Homo sapiens: one gene and its partners. The protein of the gene in region 2 interacts with the protein of the main gene of each other region in a pairwise test. Each region holds a gene or a part of one and is shown on either strand. Other genes may lie near its edges.

What was found.
Region 1: the proteins of L3MBTL3 (region 2) and THRA interact in binary tests that used the Homo sapiens proteins (3 or more experiments, as listed by UniProt).
Region 3: the proteins of L3MBTL3 (region 2) and RHOBTB3 interact in binary tests that used the Homo sapiens proteins (3 or more experiments, as listed by UniProt).

The regions. Positions count from the first base shown.
Region 1 is NC_000017.11:40,072,949-40,079,974, reverse strand, and holds part of THRA (thyroid hormone receptor alpha), read right to left. Parts: exon of another isoform or gene 6,307-7,026; intron 5,784-6,306; 5' UTR 5,487-5,783; coding exon 5,434-5,486; intron 3,105-5,433; coding exon 3,037-3,104; intron 2,468-3,036; coding exon 2,367-2,467; intron 1-2,366.
Region 2 is NC_000006.12:130,014,344-130,021,596, reverse strand, and holds the start of L3MBTL3 (lethal(3)malignant brain tumor-like protein 3), read right to left. Parts: upstream 3,017-7,253; 5' UTR 2,933-3,016; exon of another isoform or gene 2,853-2,932; intron 2,797-2,852; exon of another isoform or gene 2,643-2,796; intron 2,538-2,642; exon of another isoform or gene 2,360-2,537; intron 2,277-2,359; exon of another isoform or gene 2,134-2,276; intron 1,954-2,133; exon of another isoform or gene 1,884-1,953; intron 1,333-1,883; exon of another isoform or gene 929-1,332; intron 871-928; exon of another isoform or gene 1-870. UniProt on the Homo sapiens protein: Is a negative regulator of Notch target genes expression, required for RBPJ-mediated transcriptional repression. It recruits KDM1A to Notch-responsive elements and promotes KDM1A-mediated H3K4me demethylation.
Region 3 is NC_000005.10:95,755,320-95,762,345, reverse strand, and holds part of RHOBTB3 (rho-related BTB domain-containing protein 3), read right to left. Parts: intron 6,951-7,026; coding exon 6,585-6,950; intron 1-6,584. UniProt on the Homo sapiens protein: Rab9-regulated ATPase required for endosome to Golgi transport. Involved in transport vesicle docking at the Golgi complex, possibly by participating in release M6PRBP1/TIP47 from vesicles to permit their efficient docking and fusion at the Golgi.

The DNA of each region.
Region 1 (7,026 bases), on a different chromosome or scaffold from region 2:
CTGCCTCAGCCTCCCAAGTAGGTGGGATTACAGGCGTACATCACTACACCTGGCCAATTTTGGTATTTTTAGTAGAGACAGGCTTTTACCATGTTGGCCAGGATGGTCTCAAATTCCTGACCTTACTCATTCGTTCATTTGCTCATTCATAATCCCTCCTCTGTCACTCACAAGAAAATTGCCTAACTTCTCTGAGTCTCAGTTTCTTCATCTATAAAATGGGGATAATCATTTTATCTACCTTATAGCACTGTTGGGAGAATTAAATGAGACAATTCACTTGAAGTGTTTAAAACAGTGCCACCGGGTGTGGTAACCTCAGGTGATCTGCCTGCCTTGGACTCCCAAAGTGCTGGGATTTAAATAATTCTGTTTCTTGGAAGGCCTTGCATTTTTAGGAGGTGATCCTGGAAAGGCTATCCAGGCTGAAATGATCAAAGTGAAATCTAATTAGGCCTCTTAAGCACTTTGGGATGCAGAGGCAGGCAGATCACCTGAGGTCAGGAGTTCGAGACCAGCCTGGCTAACATGGTGAAACCCTATCTCTACTAAAAATACAAAAATTAGCCAGGCTTGGTGGCAGGTGTCTGTAATCCCAGCTACCAATGCTGAAGCAGGGAGAATTGCTTGAACCCGAGAGGTGGAGGTTGCAGTGAGCCAAGATTGCACCACTGCACTCCAGGCTGGGCAACAGAGCGAGACTCCATCTCAAAAAAAACAAAACAAAACAATTAGGCCTCCCAAAATCTATGACCTTGTCATCCCCTCTGCCTGGAAGAACCTGCTGTCCTCTTCTCCTCTGTGCTCCCAGCTCCCACTACCCCCCCAGTACTGGCTCTCGCTCTTTCAGGTGCATGGGAAACACTCCGGGATTCTGTTAAAAGGAAGATTCCTGGGCTCCACAAAAGGGCTCTGAGTGAGCAGGGTTAAGATGAAGCCTGGGCAGGCTGGGCGCAGTGGCTCACACCTGTAACCCCAGCACTTTGGGAGGCCAAGGCGGGCGGATCACGAGGTCAAGAGATCAAGACCATCCTGGTCAACATGGTGAAACCCTGTCTCTATTAAAAATATAAAAGTTAGCTGGGCGTGGTGGCAGGTGCCTGTAGTCCCAGCCACTCAGGAGGCTGAAGCAGGAGAATCGCTTGAACCCGGGAGGCGAAGGTTGCAGTGAGCCGAGATCACACCATTGCACTCCAACCTGGGCAACAGAGCGAGATGCCATCTCAAAAAAAAAAAAAAAAAAAAAAGATGAAGGCTGGGAATCTGCATTTTAACTAGTAGGACAGGTGGTCCATGAACCACATTTTGAATAACACTGATGTTTGTTTCAAGTTGTGTCTCTCTCTCTGACAGGCTGTGAGCAGCTTGAAGGCGAGGTACGTACTACACTCTCACACCTAAGAATACACTGAATGAATGGGTGATGGCTGGCATTTATCAAATGCTTCTTATGCACATGGCACTATTTTTTATTTTATTTTATTATTTTACTTTGAGACAGAATCTTGCTCTGTCACCCAGGCCGGAGTGCAGTGGCGCCACCACCGTTCAATGCAGCCCTGACCTTCTGGGTTCAAGCAGTCTCCCACCTCAGCCTCCTGAGTAGCTGGGACCACAGGCATGTGGCACCACACCCAGCTAATTTCTTTAATTTTGTAGAGACAGTGTCTCACTGTGTTAGCTAGGCTGGTCTCAAACTCCTGGGATCAAGGGATGCTCCCGCCTTGGCCTCCCTCCCAAAGGGCTGGGATTTTAGGCATGAGCCACAGCACCCAATGGCACTGTTTTAAACACTTCAAGTGAACTATCTCCCAACATATTTAATTCTCCCAACAATGCTATAAGGTAGAGAGAATGATTATCCTCATTTTATAGATGAAGAAACTGAAACTAAGGCTCGAAGAAGTTAGGCAATTTTCCTGTGAGTGGCAGAGGAGGAGTTATGAATGAGTAAATGAATGAATAAGAGAAGAGAAGAGAAAGTAACCAGGCAGGTATGCCTGTAATCCCAGCACTTCAGGAGGCTGAGACGGGTGGTCACCTGAGGTCAGGAGTTCGAGACCAGCCTGGCCACATAGTGAAACCCCGTCTCTACTAAAAATACAAAAAAACTAGCTGGGTGTGGAGGTGCATACCTGTAATCCCAGCTACTCAGGAGGCCGAGGTAGGGGAATCACTTGAACCTGAAGGCGGAGGTTGCAGTGAGCCATGATCGCGCCACTGCACTCCAGCCTGGGGGACAAGAGTGAGACTCCGTCTCAAAGAAAAAAAAAAAAAGTGATGACCTAACAGGCGGGCTTTAGGTGACATAGGGAGTAATATGGGGGCTCAGGTGGCAGGGGAGGGGCAGGAGGTAGCTTCCATACCTTGCAGCCCTCACAAGTGATACAGCGGTAGTGATAACCAGTTGCCTTGTCCCCACACACGACACACTGCTCGTCTTTGTCCAGGTAACTAGGGATATACCCTGGGAGGAAGGAAAGGATGGAGGAAGGCAGGCATGGCTTGGAGTCCCAGCAGAGAGGCTCTCACACTTTTCCCCATCCCTCAACTTTTTGTTTCTGACCCCTCTCCTAGCCCAGCCTCCCTGGTAGAATCCTAGAGAGACACGAGGTGAACCTGTCCATCTCTGCCCTAAGAGTATGAAGAATCTCAGTTCTTCTGACTGCCCATTCAGGGCTTTCTTCTTGATCTATCTACAAGGCAGAGGATGGTGGAGAGGGAAAAATAAACGTCAGCTGCTCACTGGGGATAATACAGCCCCTCAGTCCTTCAGCTCAGGCCCTGATTCTGGTAGGGCCTCAGATGAGGGTATTAGGGGAAGAGGGAAGAGGCCGTCCTGACCTAATCCACCCTCAAAAGCTGGGCACATCCCACATTACCTTTCTCACCCCCAGACAAGTCCATCCCAAGCCCTCTAGGAGGCTCCCCCCAGGGAACACATGAATTACTGTTCCACATCCAGGTCCAGAGGAGCCCTGGCTGGGTTTGGTGGGGTTGGGGACGTGGAGAAGGGGCACGCACAGCCAGCCTCACCTGACATGCTGGTTTTCAGGGAACATTGGCCGTTCTTTCTTTTTCGCTTTCCATCTGGTGACCTGGCACTGGATGGAGGCAAAGTGGGCAGAATCACAGAGCAGTCTTCGAGTAGCCCCTTTCTCATCCGAGAGGCTTATGCAATCCCCCAAGGCCTGATTCTTTCCATTTTGTGTCCTCATTCTACCTCCCACCCCCCAGGGTCAGCTGACAATGCTTAAAAGGGTCCAGTTATCTGGAAGTTGCAGGGGAGAGAGATAAGGGGCTTGGCTGTGGCACAAGCATATTCTAGAGCCCCAACACACACACATTCACCCGCCAGAAGACCTGAAGCACCCATAATCTGCAGGACATCCTCATCTTTCAGTACATGACGAATACGCTGGAAGAATTCTCAGGATATGCTTAAAGCTATGTAGCCTTTAGAACACACACATACATATGCAACATAACACCGGCACAGATGAATAACCATGCAACCTTCACTATAAACCCATGGATGGTGAGTATGCACCAGGGCCAACATACCTGTGAAATTTTCAGGGCATTCTTAAATGTGCTATACAACCTCTAGGATATGCCCATGTGTTACACAACACTCTGCACAGGCACCTCATAAAACCACCCTCATCCCTCCAGTGTGCACGTGTTGCTTGAGCTCCAGGTCATACACACATGCTAAATAACCCACAGCAATAGAAAACACTACACCCTCTGCACAGCCTCCATTTAACAGAGCAGCAAACTGAGACCCTGCTTGTGCCTGGTGACACCATGAGCTAGAGTCAGAGCCGGGACTGAGCCCCTCTGTGCAGCGTATTATTAGCAACCCTCAGCCACTGCACATATATGTTGCCAGGCTCTCCACATACATGTTGCATAACCTCGGTGCACACAGGTTACATAAGCCCTCTACATGCATGCAAGGATTGTATAACCTCCCGCACCCACCCTGCGTGTGGCATGTTGCAGGCCCCTTCCTCCTGGAGCCGGATGCAGCTCCCAACACACTGACACAGTGACCTTGGCCAGGGTCACAGTCACAGACAACCCTATGCTCCACGCCCCGTGGGGATTACTCCGGTCTACTTCCTATGAGGCTGAAAGGTCAGGTCTCCCTCACGCCTCCCAGAGGGTTGGGTGCAGGGGAACTCAGCCCACCTAGGCCCCAGTTGAGCTAGCGGCTTCAGCAGTTACCACCAGACTCACAGCCTCTGAGTGTAGTCCTAGAGATAGCCACAAGGTGGCGCATAGACATGGGGGAGGGGAAGGTGATGGGGGAGGGGTTGCAGTCTTAGGAGACTGGGAACTGGCATTCCTGCCTTTCTCCAAACATTAAGCACAGACTCTTCCAGACCCACAGAAGCCTAAGCTGGGAGACACAGGGGCTGCAAGTGACAGCCACACAGCGACAGGCCAGATCGTCCTCAGAGTCCTTCCTGGGGTGAGGCTTTGGGGGAGGGGAGCTACCCCATGCCCTGCCCAGCTGTGAGTTCCATCTACTTCCTCTACCCTCCAGGGACCCAGTTGTGGGCCTTAGGGCTTTGCCTGGCCAGGCCTCTGGCTTCCTGGCTCGGGATCTGATCTCCTAGGCAACAGTCAGCCACACTGCTCCCCGGAGCACCCCCACCCCCACCCTCTCCCTGGCCATAGGCACAGGCTGTACCCAGCTCCCAGGGCACCGTGCCAACTGGGACAAAGCTCTGTGCCACTTGGAGCTGATAGAAAAGACAGAGACCCTCTGGGCTCCTCAAGGGCAATGCAGATCACAGGTAACCATCCCTTGGTGTATGTGCAGGGCTGACACCTCACCCATGTGGAAGCAAAACCATCATGGTTGGCGTGCACTTTCTGGGAGGAGCCCCATCGCAGTGCCCGCCCTTGACCATGAACAAGGAAGAGCTTGTGGGGCTCCCAATAGATTCCGAATATAAGCTTGGGCTATGACCAATAGTTACTGGTGCATGTGCCCTGAAATGTATTACGTGAACCGCAGCTTGTGGACAACACACTTGTGGTCAGATAGTAAATGGGCTGGTAGGGAGAGGAAGAAAATGGCAAGGCTGTTTGGATCCCACATGCTCAAGGTAAGGGCAGCAATGGTGGAAGGGACGTTGGGGGCATCTGAGACTGCCCAGCAATGTCTAGGGAAGAGCCCCTTATGTGCTCCCTGTAATTGCTCTGTATCGCTCCCCGCTTCAAAATGAGCATCTCTCAATCCAAGTGCCTGTCACATCTGAACATGACTTCATCTGCCAGACAAAGGTAGGCAGAAGGCTTGCTGGCCTCACGTCCATCCCACAGAGGTGCTTAAAGGCGGTGCCTAAAGGAGAGCTCAGCCAGGTGCCCATGCCTGCTGCTTAGGAGTTGGCATGACCTAGTTGCTGAACCCATTACCTGTTCTCCTCTGGGTCTGACCCACACTCCACCTTGCTTGGCTTCTGTTCCATTCACTTCAATTCCATCCAGGATGCCCTCCAGCACGCCAAGAGACTGGGGTGGGCACACTGGCCCCCCCGGCACACCCACAGGCCACCCACCCCCTGCCACCCAGGCCCTAGGGCACAGCACCCATGATACCCGCCTCAGCACTTGGCCTTTCACACCATGCCCTGCGCCCCAAGGGGGGCGGGCGGTGGGAGGGGCCAGGGAGTGGCAGGTGGGAGGGCTGGGGGCAAGCTGGGTTTGTGGGTCCCGGGCTGTGTGCTGGGGGAGTAGCTTCGGAGTCTTGTCCTGTCCAGAGATCCCTGTGGAGAGAAGAGAGAGGCAGGGGTAAGAAGGTGTCACGGTAGGAAGGTGGGTAGGATCCCTTTGGTGGCAACATTTGGGGCTTTGGGATCCCATAACAAGACAGCAGGGGGCAGGAAGGGCAGGCATAGAGAGGGGACCAGGATGATCCCTTAGATAACAGGTACAGCAGGCGAGATTGGAGATCCACCTCCTAAGCCCCAGACATGGGAAGGAATGGAGGGAGAGAATGAGATCATTCATGTACTAAGTAATATGTCTCAGTCTTCATATTCAGACAAATGCCTGGCCCTTAATGAGCAACTATTAAACACTAGCTATTGTTACCACCCCTCTAGAAAAGCTTTCCTGAAACTCATCTGTATTATAGGGGCAAGAGGGGACCAGAGACAAGCAGTTTTCAGCATAGGCAGGGAGGGTATCTGTGAAGGAAGGATGGGACATAGAGCGGCACGCAGTGAGCATGAATGCCCATCTTTGTGCCTTAATAGAGAGAGATGTTGAAAGCTGTAGGGAACTGACCTCCCATGCTGCCAGCCAAGTTATGATCCCCAACTCTGGCCCCTCAGGGACTCCAGAGCTTCCCACGCAAGGTCTCGAATCCCACTTCCCAGGCAGAGGACCAGACTTCTCAGTTGGTTTAGCTGAGCTGCTATCGACCAGGATGGCAAGGGGGAAAGGAAAGGAAACTAACACATATTAACTGGAGAGAGAATCTGTACCCTCCAAAGAGGGCACGAGAACTTCACAGATGAGGAAACTGAGTCTCAGAAAGCTTGGTCATTCACTCAAGTTCACACAACTAGTAAGCAGGTGGCTGTGGGATAAGCCTCACAGCCTGGCCCTAATGCTAGCCTTGTTCTGCTACCTGGAGTCCAGGGCAGTGCCAAGCCGGGCCCACCATTCCTACGGCATTGCACCTCTGACCCTGGGCTGCAGACCTGTGGCTTACTGTCTGTGTGCACACAGGCAGGTGTGGCGGGTAGGAGGGGGACAAAGGGTACAGCTCCCCAACATACGACCTCAACCTCTGTCACGTGGCTGCTGCATAGGAGACCTCACCCCTAGGCCCCCTGGCCCCACCCCCAGGAGCTGATAAGCAGCCAGGGTGGGAAGAGAGAGGGAGATAAGTCAGGGGATTGGGCAGGGCCAGCAGCAGAACGGGGCCTCTGCACCCAGGCAAGCTGGTAGTGTGGAGAGCATGGGCATTGCACAGAAAAGTGGCCCGTTCTACCTCTGATA
Region 2 (7,253 bases):
TTCTTAACATTCAAAATAAAGTCATCAGCTGAGACTCGTTAATTAAAAATTGATCAGAGGTACAGACACCGATAAATGCAAAAGCAAACAATTGTTTCCAATTCAGGGAGCGATCAATCTCAAATCTCTGAATAAAAGCAAAGTGTCTTTCCCATATAACTCATGTCGGATGGAAGTTACAGGGTCTGAGTCCTCAGAATTCATTGCTTCGATTTACTAAACTTTCAATTTCTGATCAGCATCCTTTCACACAACATCTGGCTGCTCGCTCAGGTCCTCTAATTACTTCCACGTCTGAACGGACTACGTAGCTACGAGTAAAGGCCAAACTTTGCTCTCGGCCTTCCGAACTTAAAAGACGCGTTCAACCACTAGAGGTCTCCCCTTGGCCAGTTTTGCACGTTCGCTATTTTGCTGCACTTGAAACTTTCCGGAGAAATGCTCTCTACTCGAGTCAGTGTTTTTCTAAAAACTTGCGCAAAAATCCACGCGACCGAGATAGCCAGCATAGAGCCTCTCGGACTCCCTAAACCAATAAAGACATCACAAACAACGCTCTAGGAAAACCAAAAGGAGAACTGGACGCACTCGCCCCGGCCGCGCCCCCCCACCCCAAATTCTTATTTCTCATCTCAGTTTCCCCTAACCTAACAATTAAAAATCTATTTTTGTTTCTGTGCACTCTGAATGATCTCGAATGCATTTTTCTGGCGGTGGCCCCGAGGTGGAGAAGCGGGCCAAGGGATGCGAGGCGTTGGGGGTGGGGGCGGTGAGGGGGAGGGCCGTGCTCACAGCGCCCGAGGAAGTTGCCTAAGGAAAGGGACTCCGTTTTTCGGGTCCCCTCAAAAAATCGGCGGGGAGGGGGAGGAAAAGGAAGCGGGGTGGTGGCAGCAGGGGGACTCAGAAGGGAAACCGAAGCAACGTTTACCTCCGTCTCCCGTGGAAGGGTGGGGTAGAGCCGCGGTCCCCGCGCCCTGGAAAGCGGCTAGTTACCCCCACCTCCCTCTGAGCGCGACGGACAGACCGACGCCCCCAGCCCTCCGCGGGGACCCGGGAGGAACACGCCCGCTTTTAAACTTTCTCTCACGGTCGCGCTGCGGGCTGTGCTTTGACCGGGACTGGGGGAGGGGGGAATCGCAGGGCCTTTTTTTCTTTAAAGGTAATTAAAGTTTTACCACCAGTCCAAAAGTTGCGCCCTCCCCCCGCCCGTGCCACCGTGCCCTCCTCCCCTTCCAGGGCTCTCAAGTTTTTCTCCCCGCCCGGCGGCCCCCACACTCCACCAGCTCGCGGGGCGCGCGGCGGATGCCTCGGCTCCTGCGCTTCCCGATCCCCACCCCCGCCGGCCTCTACTTCCCCCCGCCCCGCCGCCGCGGCGCGAGGACGGCCCGCGGGGCCCAGGACGCGAGTGTGCAAAGCCCATTATTCCGGAACCGCACACACACGCGGCGCGAGGCGGGCGGTGGCCCCGGCGCCGGCCCCGGCCCCGACCCCTCTTTTCCTCCCCAGAATAAGGCAGGCGTAAACAAGTTGCAGGAAAAGCAGCCCCGCGCCGCCCCCACCCTCCCCCCACAAGCCCGCCGCCCCGGCGCGGCCGCCGCCGCCGCGACCGCCGCCGCCGCCTCCCGACACACGCCCGCGCCCGCGCCCGCACCCGGGCCGGCGCGGCGCGGCACGGCGCGGGGCGAACGCCGCGACGGCGCGGGCTCCCGGCCCGGCCCGCGGCCCGCGCCCTCTCCCGCGCGGACGGCCGCCGCGGGCCCGCGCCGCCTCGCTTCCCAAAGCACTTTCCTGCCTCGGGCAGAAATAAACCGGAGGGTTTATTTTTGTGCAACTTTCCCAAAATGGCGGAAATTGGAGCTGATCTATATGAAATTCTCACACACTCGGTTGGGAAGAGGGAGGCGGCGAGGAAGCCACGCAAACTCTCGGCCGCCGAGCCCCGCCGCGGGTCCGTGTGTGTGCGTGCGTGTGAGTGTGCGTGTGCGCGGTGGGAGTCGGGCAGGCCTTTCCGCCGCGCACACACACAGCACACGCCGGGGAGACGCGCCTGCACATTCAACCAGTCCATTCTCCGCAGCCCGAAAGGGGAGAAAGTGGCCCGGCCTCTTTTCCCACTGCCTCGGTCTCCCGTACTTGTACTTCTCGCGCTCGCCCGCCCGCTCGCTCGCTCTCCGGTGCGCGCCCGGCACAAAGGCCACACGGGCGGAGGGGGCCGCAGGGGCGGCGCGCGGGGCTCGCGCCTCCCGCCGCACCGATCCGCGGCCCCGGCCGCCCCCGCGCCCCCCGCCGGCGCCCCCCGCCTCGGCGGCCGCGCTCGCCGCCTGGGCTGCGGCTCCGCGGCGCCCACCCGGACACGCACCCCGGTGGAGCCCGGCGCCGCCGCGCTCCCCCACCCCGCGCCCGGTGTCACGAAAGCGACCAAAGTGACAAGCTCGGGGGGCGCGGGGGAGGGGGCCACACGCATCCCGCCGCCTGCGCGCCAGCCTGAGCCCAACGCGGCCGCCTCGCCCCGGCTCCCTTCCGCACGGCCCCCCACACCCTTCCCCGTGTGCGCGCAAAGAAAAAAATACAAGTCTCTCCTCCCCCCATTTTTTCCTTTCTCTTTTCTCTCTCTTTTGTTCCTCTTTCACACTCGCACTCACTACTTCAGAGTGAGATGCCCAGAGACTCCCCCTCCAGCCGTTTCCGAGTCACTTGCCCACTTTTTTCCCCGGGATTAAGTTTTCTCCTCTTTCCCAGAGGCGCAGAGAAGTGGGGGAGAAACCCCTTCTGTCCCTCCCCTCCCCTGATCTGTTTCACAAGACGAGGGTGCGCTTCCTTCCCTCTATAGGGCTCTTAACTTTCATCCTCACCCAGAAAAATAAATGAATGGCTTTTGCACGGACAAATCTTCAGATTAATTAGAGATTAGATCCGATCAACCGCTTCTTACCCCCAAATTTTCTCTTTTTTTTTTCTCCGTCTCACGAGTAGTCCTGACAAATGGTCCAGGGCTGCGGGCGCAATGCGCATGTGCGCGTAGAGTCAGGGCTGGGGAGAGGGGAAACTGCGCTGGTGCCGGTGCCGCCGCCGCCGCCGCCGCTGCCGGGGAGGCTCGCTCTGGCTTCCCTGTTACTGCTGCTGCGCCTTCGCCGCTGGAAAGCAGCAATAAAGCCGGGTGGCAAATGCAGCTGCCCGCAGATCCTGTTTCAGGTGCATCTTTTCAATAGCCCGGTCACCGCCTCAGAGCTGGTTCAAGAACAGTCCAAACAAATAGGAAACACTGCTAAGGTTCCAGATTTCTTTGTCTATTTTTCACTTTACTTTTTTTAAAGGCAATTCTCAGAGCAGCGAATCCACCATGTGCTGTGAAATGTATGCATTCAGCCATTAAAGAGTGGGCCTTAGTCTTGCACAAACACTGCCCAAAGGCTAAATACATGCTACAGGTCATGAAAAGTAACAAAGTTGTAAGCTTTGGGAGAGTACAATCTCCCTCTCTTTGATGGCTGGAACAATGCATAATAAAGAAAGTGTGCATATAAAACTTGTGCCTTCTTTCCGCTTCCTAAGTGCGGATCTTTATTGACAGCTCCAACATGTTAGGCCTCTGTCGAGTAATAGGCTGAGATTCCTACAGTAACTTAGAACACTGTGAAAGTCCCTTGGCAATAAGCAGGTCCAGGACTACCCTCTTAAGGTATTCAGTCAAGATGGCTGAGCGGTCCTAAATGGCAAAACCTGTCTTTGTTAAAGCGTCAAAACTAGATCAAGAGAGTATTACATTTCAGTATTGACAGCTTTCGGCGCATTGACTGCGGGCCGCCGTTTGGACAGCTTCACTGGTCTTTTCCACTTAATAGGAGTACTTACAAAATAATTCGAGTAATTAAAGTTTTGATAAACATTTTGATGTCAATAGCAGAGTTTGCTGTGTGAAAAAAAAAAGCATGTGTGATTTTAGGAATGAGGGAAGCATGTCTTAGATTTTGCGGGGGGGGGGAGGTAAAAGGAAGTTCCCATCCCCAGAGTAGACTATTTTGCATCTAATAAAGGGTAAAGGAGGCCCTTTTCTGAAACTGCTGCCTGAGGCCTAGAATTTAAATATATCACAGATGGAAGTTCTATATTAAAAATCCTTCTCCAGTGTAGGGAATATTATTCTTGATTGAATTTTTTCACTTAAGGAATGTTTCTTGAACCAGTTTCAGAACATAAACTCTTAAATTCTTTCCTTAGGACCATGAAATTACCCTATAGAAGCAGACCACCCGATATATCTAATGTTGGTGTAGTGACCAAATTCTCCAAACCAAAAATCAGGCCATATGCCTTAACATGTACTCCAGAACAAACGGACAAATCCTGTGAAGCTGAAATGAACTTATAAAATGCTTCATACGTTGAACAGCCGTTGGCTGAGGGGTGTGAAGTAGAGAAGGCTGGGTAGTGAGAGCTGTAGATGATCTCAAACCACCAGTTCACTATTGATTTCACCCACCACATTCAACCCTTTTCAGAGCTGTTCCCAAACAGCTTAATTAACTGATCTGAATTTCAGCTTCTCTCCTTTTCTCTCTAGCCCTTGAATAATAAGCAGTGAAATGGCCAAAGGCAAACTGCAGGAGAAGGAAAGAAAGGGCATGAGCTATGTACAAAACTAAGACCTTGCCCCCATGGAAACTAAATTAATTTTAGATTCCTCTTTCTGAAAAATCAATTTTAGATTCCTTCTCTCAAGATAATTTCTAGATGATATTTCTGTTGTACTTATGTTTTCAGTGATACTGGTTCAACAGTCTATAAATGTGTATTAATGGCCTACCTGTGCTAAGTGCTCTGCAAGGTGCTGGGGATAAACAGGTGACCAAAACTAGGCCCCAGCTACAAGAAATTCAGCCTGGTGGAGAGACAGTGTAGTAAATTGGGCATTATGTTACAGTAATGTTATATGGAAAATGTTATAGCAGAGGTATGTAGAGCAAACACAGTTGAGCACCAGTGGCAATAAGGAAAGGCTTTACATTAGAAGTGATGGCTAAGCTGATTCTTGAAGGACAAACATCCAGGGTACATGATGCCATTCTTCTTCCCAGAAGGTGTCTGGGAACATGAACCAATCAGAGAAGTCCTGAGTAAAGGTCCGAGTGTTTCAAGAGCAAGGCTTGCCTAGAAAGTGTACTGACAGAGGTTCACTAACAGAAATAAGGATGACTTGAGGCTCTCTATGATACACTCTTTCTCCTCCGGAGATCATTATTAAAACCTCATCTCAATTTTTCTCAAGATGTGGTTCAGGATAGTAAAGATTTTGAAAGTACTCACTTGTAGGAATAATGACTTTAAAGGCTGCTGTCAAAGTTTTCTACAAAGAATCCTTTGGTGCCACTATCTAAAACAGAGGTAAAATACATTATTAGAAGCTAGGTAACATGATTTTATTCTTCGCATAAATGTGTACTATTTACCAGACCTTTCTCCGTCTGTTCACTAAATAGTAATATACTAGCAGAGGCTTCTTTGCCATCCCTTCCACCTTCCACCATTCACTCACTTGTTAATGATTCATGATGAATGCCTTCTTTCCGGCATCACTTAATCTCATCATCCTCTACCACTCTCCCACCTTCCCATCCCACCCTCCTCCACCCTGCCACATGTAAATACCAAATCCATGCTTCAGGTTCAGGTCTATAACTTCCCTGACGTCCCACACTCAGCTATGAGCTCACTCCTTTATTTTTCTTTATATTTATTTGTTTATATCCAAACTTGTCCACCCCAAAATGATTTCAGGTTACTACATTCCCAAATATTCTGAAGCTAAAGTCATTTTACATAGAAAATGTTTTAAACAAATCACTGTACTCACTCTCCAGAGAATTTTTGAAGCCTCTCATCACCCCATCCCCCACCCTCATGGATGTCATTCAAAACTTCTCACTGTACTCCATCCTGGAATGTCGATGCTGCATGCACTTCATTTTAGAAATCTTAGCTACTGCAGGATGTGGTGGCTCACGCCTGTAATCCCAGCACTTCAGGAGGCCTAGGTAGATGGATCATCTGAGGTCAGGCGTTCGAGACCAGCCCAGCCAACATGGTGAAACCCCGTCTCTACTAAAGATACAAAATTATCTGGGCATGGTGGTGCATGCCTACAATCCCAGCTACTTGGGAGGCTGAGGCAAGAGAATCACTTGAACCCAAGAGGCAGAGGTTGCAGTAAGCCGAGATTGCACCATTGCATTCCAGCCTGGGCAACAAGAGCGAAACTCTGTCTCAAAACAAACAAACAAACAAACAAAAATGCTTAGCACCCTTTTCCTAACACTATGCTTGTCCTGCATTGATAAGACAGGCCCCTCATGTCCTGGAAAAATTCAAGGATTACATTTTCCATGAGCCAGCCCTTCACAAATTGAAAGTGCCCAGGAGTGAAGTCCAAGAGACTGGTGTTCTAATCCAGTTCTGCTACCACCACTGGGAACCATTAGCCATGTCACCTCACGTTTTAGGAGCTTCAGTTCTCTCCCTACTTAGATAAAGTAAACAGAGTAATTGATTTTTTCCCTTTTTTTTCCTTTTAATTGGCCCTGCTTCCTGAAGTTTTTGTTGTTGTGTTTTGGAGGCAGTGGCTTGCTCTGTCACCTGGGCTGGAGTTTAATGGCGCAATCACAGCTCACTGCAGCCTCGACTTCCCAAGCTCAAATGATCTTCCCACCTCAGCCTCCCAAGTAGCTAGGACTACAGGAGCATGCCACCATGCCTGGCTGATGTTTTTTATGTTTTGTAGAGATGGAGATCTCGTTATGTTGCCCTGGTGGTTTCAAACTCCTGAGCTCAAGTGATCCTCCTGCCTCGGCCTCCCAAAGTGCTGGAATTACAGGAATAAGCCACTGCGCTCAGTCTGATTTCTGAAGTCTCCTTGAAAGCCATGTATCTCCCTACTCCTTCTCACATAACAGCAACACAATCATATTTTAGTACAAATAATATGGAACCGAGAAAGGGATTTTTAAGTAAAGAGTAAAGGCTCATCCAATAGGTATCATAATGTTATCAATGAATAGCTCATTCAGCTTGGCTTAAGCCTGGTACTAATGAGATGGAGGTCATGGGTTTCATTCCCTAATGGCTAGTTAGTTTTGATCTGTTTCATAGCCACAGACTGCTTTCCTAACCCCGGTCCCCCATGTTACAATGTGTGCTATTGGTCACAAGTCTTAAGGTAAAATTGAACCTTTCTATAGAAATTTTCTAAAAGAACAATT
Region 3 (7,026 bases), on a different chromosome or scaffold from region 2:
AAAACCAAATCCAATTGGAAGGGGCAGATTGCAAGTCCAGAAGCTCTCAGGCTCTTACAGCTGAGCCCTGCAGCACTAAGCACTAATGCATATCCTTTCAACTTCTCCCCACCTGGCCTTCCTAATACTTACAGTGTCTCCTGGGGGAGGGAGTCAAATGATATGTAGCATTTGCCATTTTTTGATGCTATCAACATGACATCACAGAACAAGGAAATGGGGATGATAAACACAACTGGGCTCTCACAAGCTGGTGCCAGCTCCAGCACACCACTGCTTCTTTCTGCCTTTGCTAGCTCTTTTTATGCTTTCACTGATTGCTCCCCTTCCTCCTCAAATTCTCAAAGCTGTGTAGTGTAGAAGAGCTCTATGATTTCTGTTTTTCTCTTTCTGCATGAATGCTTTTTAACTGTGTGGCCACATCCTCTTTTCCCATCTCATAAATTCTTGGGATTGTATGACCAGAAAATTTCATGTGCACACAAACATTAAAGTCAGTATAACAATGTGAGAGTGTAAGAACCCCTTAGAAGCCAATGGATCCCAGATCAATAAAATTACTCTATGCCAGTGATTATCAACCATACCTGTGTATTATAAATACCTGAGATCTTTTATAAAATACCATGAGAGGAGGTCTCATCTCCAGATCAAGTGAATTAGAATTTCTGGGCCTGAAGCCCCTGGCATCAGTGTTTTAAAATTCTCCCTGGTGACCCTAATGTGCATGGTATGCTGCTGACGGCCACTGCTTTCCCTTTAGAAATTTCAACCACTGAGTTCGAGACCAGCCTGGCCAACATGGGGAAACCCTATCTCTACTAAAAATACAAAAATTAGCTGGGCATGGTGGCGTCTGCCTGTAATCCCAGCTACCTGGGAGGCTGAGGCAGGAGAATCGCTTGAACCCAGGAGGCGGAGATTTCAGTGAGCCATGATCATGCCACTGCACTCCAGCCTGAGTGACAGAGTGAGACCCTGTCTCAAAAAAAAAAAAAAAAAAAAAGAGGAAAAAGGAAAGAAATTTCAGCCATTATCCAAACCCAGTGTTAGTGGTATGCAGGAAAGGGAACATGTAAGTATTTTTTATGTCTGCACTCATCCAATCTAAAGAAGAACATAAGTACTGTCTCTGTGTTCTTTTACATACTTATATATGTAAAAGTTACATTGTTATTTAAGTAAAAGCATATTAACTAAAAAACACCTATAAAATATCTCCATTCAGAAGATTATCTAAAAGCAAGCAAGCATCAAATAATCTAAATAGATGGAATCAGTAGCAGGTAAATCCCCACAGGCCACTGAACTGTCTGAGAACACACACAGGAAGAATCACTCACTGAAAATGAAAGTAAGACTAATTCTCAAGAGCACACTGCTGATTGGGCTGTTTTCATAATTAGAAACATTAATCAAGTCATCTTTGAGACTTTTAGGTCCTAATAAACCAGTAATCCTAAGGCTGGGACTTTCCTTTTATTTTTCCAGTGGTAAAAACATTTAACATCAGATTTACCCTCTTAGAAAACTTTAAGTATATAATGCGATATCATTAACAATAGGCACAATGTCATACAGCAGGTCTCCAGAACTTACTCATCTTGCATAACTTTACTGATTGATCAACTGCAGACAAGGGCAGGATGACATCTTGCATCACTGACTGGGATTTTCTTTAGTTAACTTCTTAAAGCACTGAATCCACTTAGACTTTTAGAGCGCATGGTATACTCATGTATACTAGGCTGTGTTTTTATGCAATACAGAAAAGGACATGCCACGGAATGATTCTAAGAACTGGAGAATGTAAACTGAAGATGAAAGCTTGCTTCCACATATTTGTCTACTCAGATGGCATTTCAATAAGTGATGTGAAACTCTAAGGGCCATCTGTGGCAGGAAGAGCTCAAAGCTAAATTCTTGAGGTTCTTACAAATACTTCACTTCCTAACCATCTGAGATCATATGACTCAAGAATGTGCAACCATAACACTGTATCAAGTATTATAAGAATGTTACAATTGTATGCCATGTAAGAATTACTCCCTGAAGACCAGGAAAGGGCTGGCTTCACTTATCACATTACTCCTCGTTCCTTAGGATTAGTAGTTAAGTACTTATACATTATGCAGTGTTTGTTGTTATTCAATAGAAAACTAACGTATACAAAACAGATATACCTTGACTGTGTCTACTGAATCAAAAATTTGAATAGGAATAGATAGGTGTAAAATGTTAACCGGACTGTTGTTAAACAGGTCGCTCCTAAATAACGAACCAAATGTTCATGGTGACATAACACACACCAAATTTCAAATTCCTAAAGGTTAAAAAAAGCATGTTATTTAAAAAGAATTAAGATATTCTTTGTAATCTGGTTCTTTAAAAAAAAAAAAAACAAGGACAGGAGATAGGCTTATTATAACTCTCTAGCCCGTGTTTGCTCAAGGCAAATATTCCTGAGCACATGATGGAGTTCAACCTCTGCTTTACCAACCCATCTGATGGGAACACAAACAAACAACTCCTGTCTTCAATGGTTCTCTAGCATAACCCAAGGGCAGACCACAGCACTTCTGTGGGAAAACCACTGCATAACTGTGCCTTAACACTTGTATTCTATTCACAGGTTTAAAAATGTTAAAACAAAAACAAAACAAAACAAGCCTGGCCCATTTACTGAAGTCTCTGAGAAAAACGTAGGTTTAAAATTTTTGTTTGATTTGATTACAAAATACATTTTTTCAAAAACAGTGTCACTTATTCATACACAAACAAATGACTAGAGGATCAAACAAAGCAATAAATGTTTAAACATTTTCTGTTGATAGTGGAATCTGGGTAAATTTTTTTCTCTTAATTTTCAGCATTTTTCAAAATTGTCTTTTCTGTGCAAATACAGCTTTGATATCTCTTTTTAACATAATGTAAATGAAACTTTTCCTTGAGCCAGAGGTTGTAATCTGTAAATAATTAAAGAATAATAAATAGATACCTGCAGAACCAGTTATTTTCCCTTTTCCTTAACCAGCATCTGGATCTCTGCAGCCCCGGGTCAATGGCCCGTGCCCCTGCTCAGACCAGACAGCACCTCCGGCTTTGGCCGTGACGTACAAGGAGAGATCACAGCCGAAATGGGACGGGTCAGTGTCAGGTTAAGAAGCCAGGACTCTGAACTGGTTGAAGACCTGTAGCTCAGCAGGCTCTCCACACCATCATGCCTGCCTGCCCTCCGATCCCTATTCCAGGCTTACTTAATTTCCACCCAACCACTAGGCATCCATTTTTCCTCGCGTCAGGGACACACAGGGCACTGAGAGCCCCAGTTCTGAATAGCACTGCATCAGTCAGCCTTACAGCTCACCCCATTTTTACTTTGAATCCTAAGCTGTTAACTTGGTAGCCTTCCTGGGCCTCTGCACTGAATTCTAGGCCCTAGTTTGCTGGTTTTGGCTGGTTCCCAGTTCTTCCAAAAGCAGGTATTCCAGCTGCTTCTGGCAGTCCAGAGATCCAGCACCACCTCGGAGACTACTGGAAATGCAGAATCTCATGCCCCACTCCAGGTAACTGAATCAGAATCTCCACAGGAACAAGATCCTCAGATGATCTGCACACACTTTAAGGTTTGAAAAGCACTGGTCTAGACGATGAAGGGCCAATGGCAGGGCCACCCACTGTCTGAATGTTGGCCTTCCTGAGGCTGATCGCCAGAGTAATGGGACCTCCTGATTGAATGCCTGTCTTGGCCGCACTGTTCCACCCTGCAACCACAACCAGAGATGAGCTTTCTAAAGCCCAGTCTGATCATGCTTAAAACTCTAGCACAAGTCTAAGAGCAGCAGGAACAGCTTCCACAGGCCTTGCCCACCTCATCACCCACCAGCCATCACCTTTCACTCTACGCTCCAGCCATGGGAAACGGCCTGTGATCCCTGGAAAGCAGCAGATACCTAGGATTACACTTTTATTAATCAAATGTCCCCAGAATATTAATCTCTTTCAAACAGTATCAGAATGAGTGCATAAAAAAATTACAACAGGTAAATGACTCCGGGGAAAGGGTCTAGGGTAGAAGGATAACTTTTTTCTTTTCTTTCTCTTTTTTTCCATCTGCCTGTATTAATTTTGCAATTAAATAAAGCACTCCCCCTAGGAGAAAGCTAGGCAGGATCAGCCACTGGAGATACATCTAGCTATTTTACTGCTACTATGTTAAAAAGGATATAAGACGTCAGAGTGCTCATATGCCTTTGAAAGTAGTCAATAATAATTGTGGAAGCCTACTGAATAATTCATGTAATTTCAACAGAAAATTATCATACAAAAGTCACATCCCTCACAGTTCCTTAAACATATGATTAAAAACATCTTTTTTCTCTTAACATGTAAACATGTTAGTTTTTCAAAATCTTAAATTCTGAACTGTGACATTCTAAGTTTAAACGTCAAAATCTATAGTACTAAATGAAGTCTTTAAATAGTTTGGCTTACTGATATGATGATGCCCGGCTACTGGAGCCTACTCTTTAATTCAACTAAAACTTACAGAGAACCCGTTGAAGGCAATGTGCTGGGTGTGTGCTGTACAGGTGCTTAATTTATGCTTTTTCCAAGCCAATATTTCACTAACCTAGCACCACATTCTACTCCAATATGTATTTTTTATCCACATAAATCTGCGTGCTGCAACTGTACTTTTCAAAATCATAATTTAAGTTTTAACTTATAAAATTACATGACCACAAACCACATGAACAAAGTAATACCTTATTTTTAACATCAATTACTTAAATAAAGGCTGCCCCAAATTTCCCTACCTGTATGAAATGATACTTGCCTTGCAAACCTTAAACTTTTTGTCTGTTCCCAATTAGGCTTTACTTGAACCCTAAAAACAAATTAATTATAAATGTTTCTCCAGACACACTGCAGAGCAGGAGTGACCTTAGCCTAACAGGTTATCGCTACATGATTTGAAGTGGGTAAAGAAAATTAAAGACAGGAGTTCTGAGAAAACTTATATTTAGATGCTTACATTAAAATTCATTTTACATCTGTTCTTTTCCACTCTTACATGGGACACTTAGATGTAAGACCTTCAATTCATTTGCTAAAATGACTCAGATAGAACTTCCATCTTTAAAATATAGTTGCTACTGAGTTTTTAAAAGGGCAAAGAGAAAAATACTTGATAAGCTAAATCTTAAAAAGAAAGGGCACAGTAAGGAAAAAAAAAAGTAACGTCTATGATAGTCATAGCCAAAGTTAATTAGACCTCAACTAACACTGGATATTGATTTCCAGTCCGTAAGCTGAATGCAATTCTCTCTTTCACGCCCTACAAAACCTAAGAGTCAAACCGAAGAGTGAATAGCTAGGTTTTAAGGTGTAGACACTTGATTTCATTTACTCTTGGAATATTTTATGTCTTTAAAACTAAATTGGACAATAAATTCTCACATTTCATATTTTGGATGTTTTTTAAAGAAATAAAATATTAACATACTTGTTTGGCAGATTATGGTTTTTACAAGTAGATTTAAAACCAAGGCAAATACAAAAACATATGAAAAGATGCTTGATATCACTAATCATTAGGGAAATGCAAATCAATACCAGAATTAGATACCACATCAAACCCATTAAGATGGCTACTATTAAAAAAAATAAACAGCAAGTGTTGGCAAGGATGTGGAGAAATTGGAACCCTTGTGCACAGTTTGTAGGCACATAAAGTGGTATAGCTAGTGTGGAAAACAGTATGGCAGTAAAAAATCAAAAACAGAATTACCATGTGATCCAGCAATTCCACTTCTGTGTATATATGCAAAAAATAAAATAAAAGCAGAGTCTCAAAAGAGATATTTGTACACTATGTTCACAGCAGCATTACTCACAATAGCTAAAACAGTGGAAGCAACCCAAGCGTCCATGGATGAATGAATGGGTAAACAAAATGTGGTCTATATGTACTACAGAATATTATCAACCTTAAAAGGAAGAAAATCCTGATACATGCCACAACTTGGATGAACCTTTAAGACATTATGCTAAGTAAAATACATCAATCACAAAATGACAAATACTGTATGATTCCACTTACATGAGGCACTTAGGAGAGTTAAAATCACAGAGACAGAAAGTAGAATGGTGGCTGTCAGGGGCTGGAAAGAGGTCGGAATGGGGAATCATCGTTTAATGGGTATAGAGTTTCAGTTTTATAAGATGCAAAGAATTATGGACACGGATGGTGGTGATAGTTACACAACATTATGAATGTGTTTAATTCCACTGAACTGTGTTCTTAAAAATGGTTAAGATGGTAAAATTTATGTTCTATGTATTTTACCACAATAAAATGAAATTGATAGGGAAAAGATGAGGCAAGTACATTTGTAAGGAAAACAGAAAGCTTGGACCAATTCTTATATATAAAGCAAATAATATTTCATGTATAATCTTAATCTCAGATGGTAGGTAAAGACCACTGTAAAACTAACCAGTACCCTTGAGTGTCACAGGCACATTTCATTTCCAAAGCTTATGAGATTGTAAGTAACCAGAACCACTTGACAAGATACCTGAATAAATGAAGCGAAGGATGTCTGATAAACAAGAACAGAAGAGGGCGTCTTTAACAATGACTCGTAATGGTGGGTTGCCTGAAGATTCATGGCTAGCACCTGGAAATGCAGTATCTCTGTTTATAGCAAAAAGATCCTGGGTAGTTCGGATGATACTGGAATCCTGAATGTCAGTGGGACTCTTCACATTGAAAAGCAGCATGAAAACATGGCTTACAGCGCAGAGAACGATCTTGTGGGCCTCTACAACTTTCTTTAAATTGGGGTTGTAAAATACCACGTCCACACACTGGCAGCAGAACAGCAAGTTATTTAAGTCAGAGTTATAATGTGACGCTTCAGCCTTTAAGACAGGCATTTTTTCTGTTTTGAAAAAGAAAATAAAAATAATAAACTCCTTTCAGGTTTACAGACCCAACAATTTCATGTTTACTTTAAA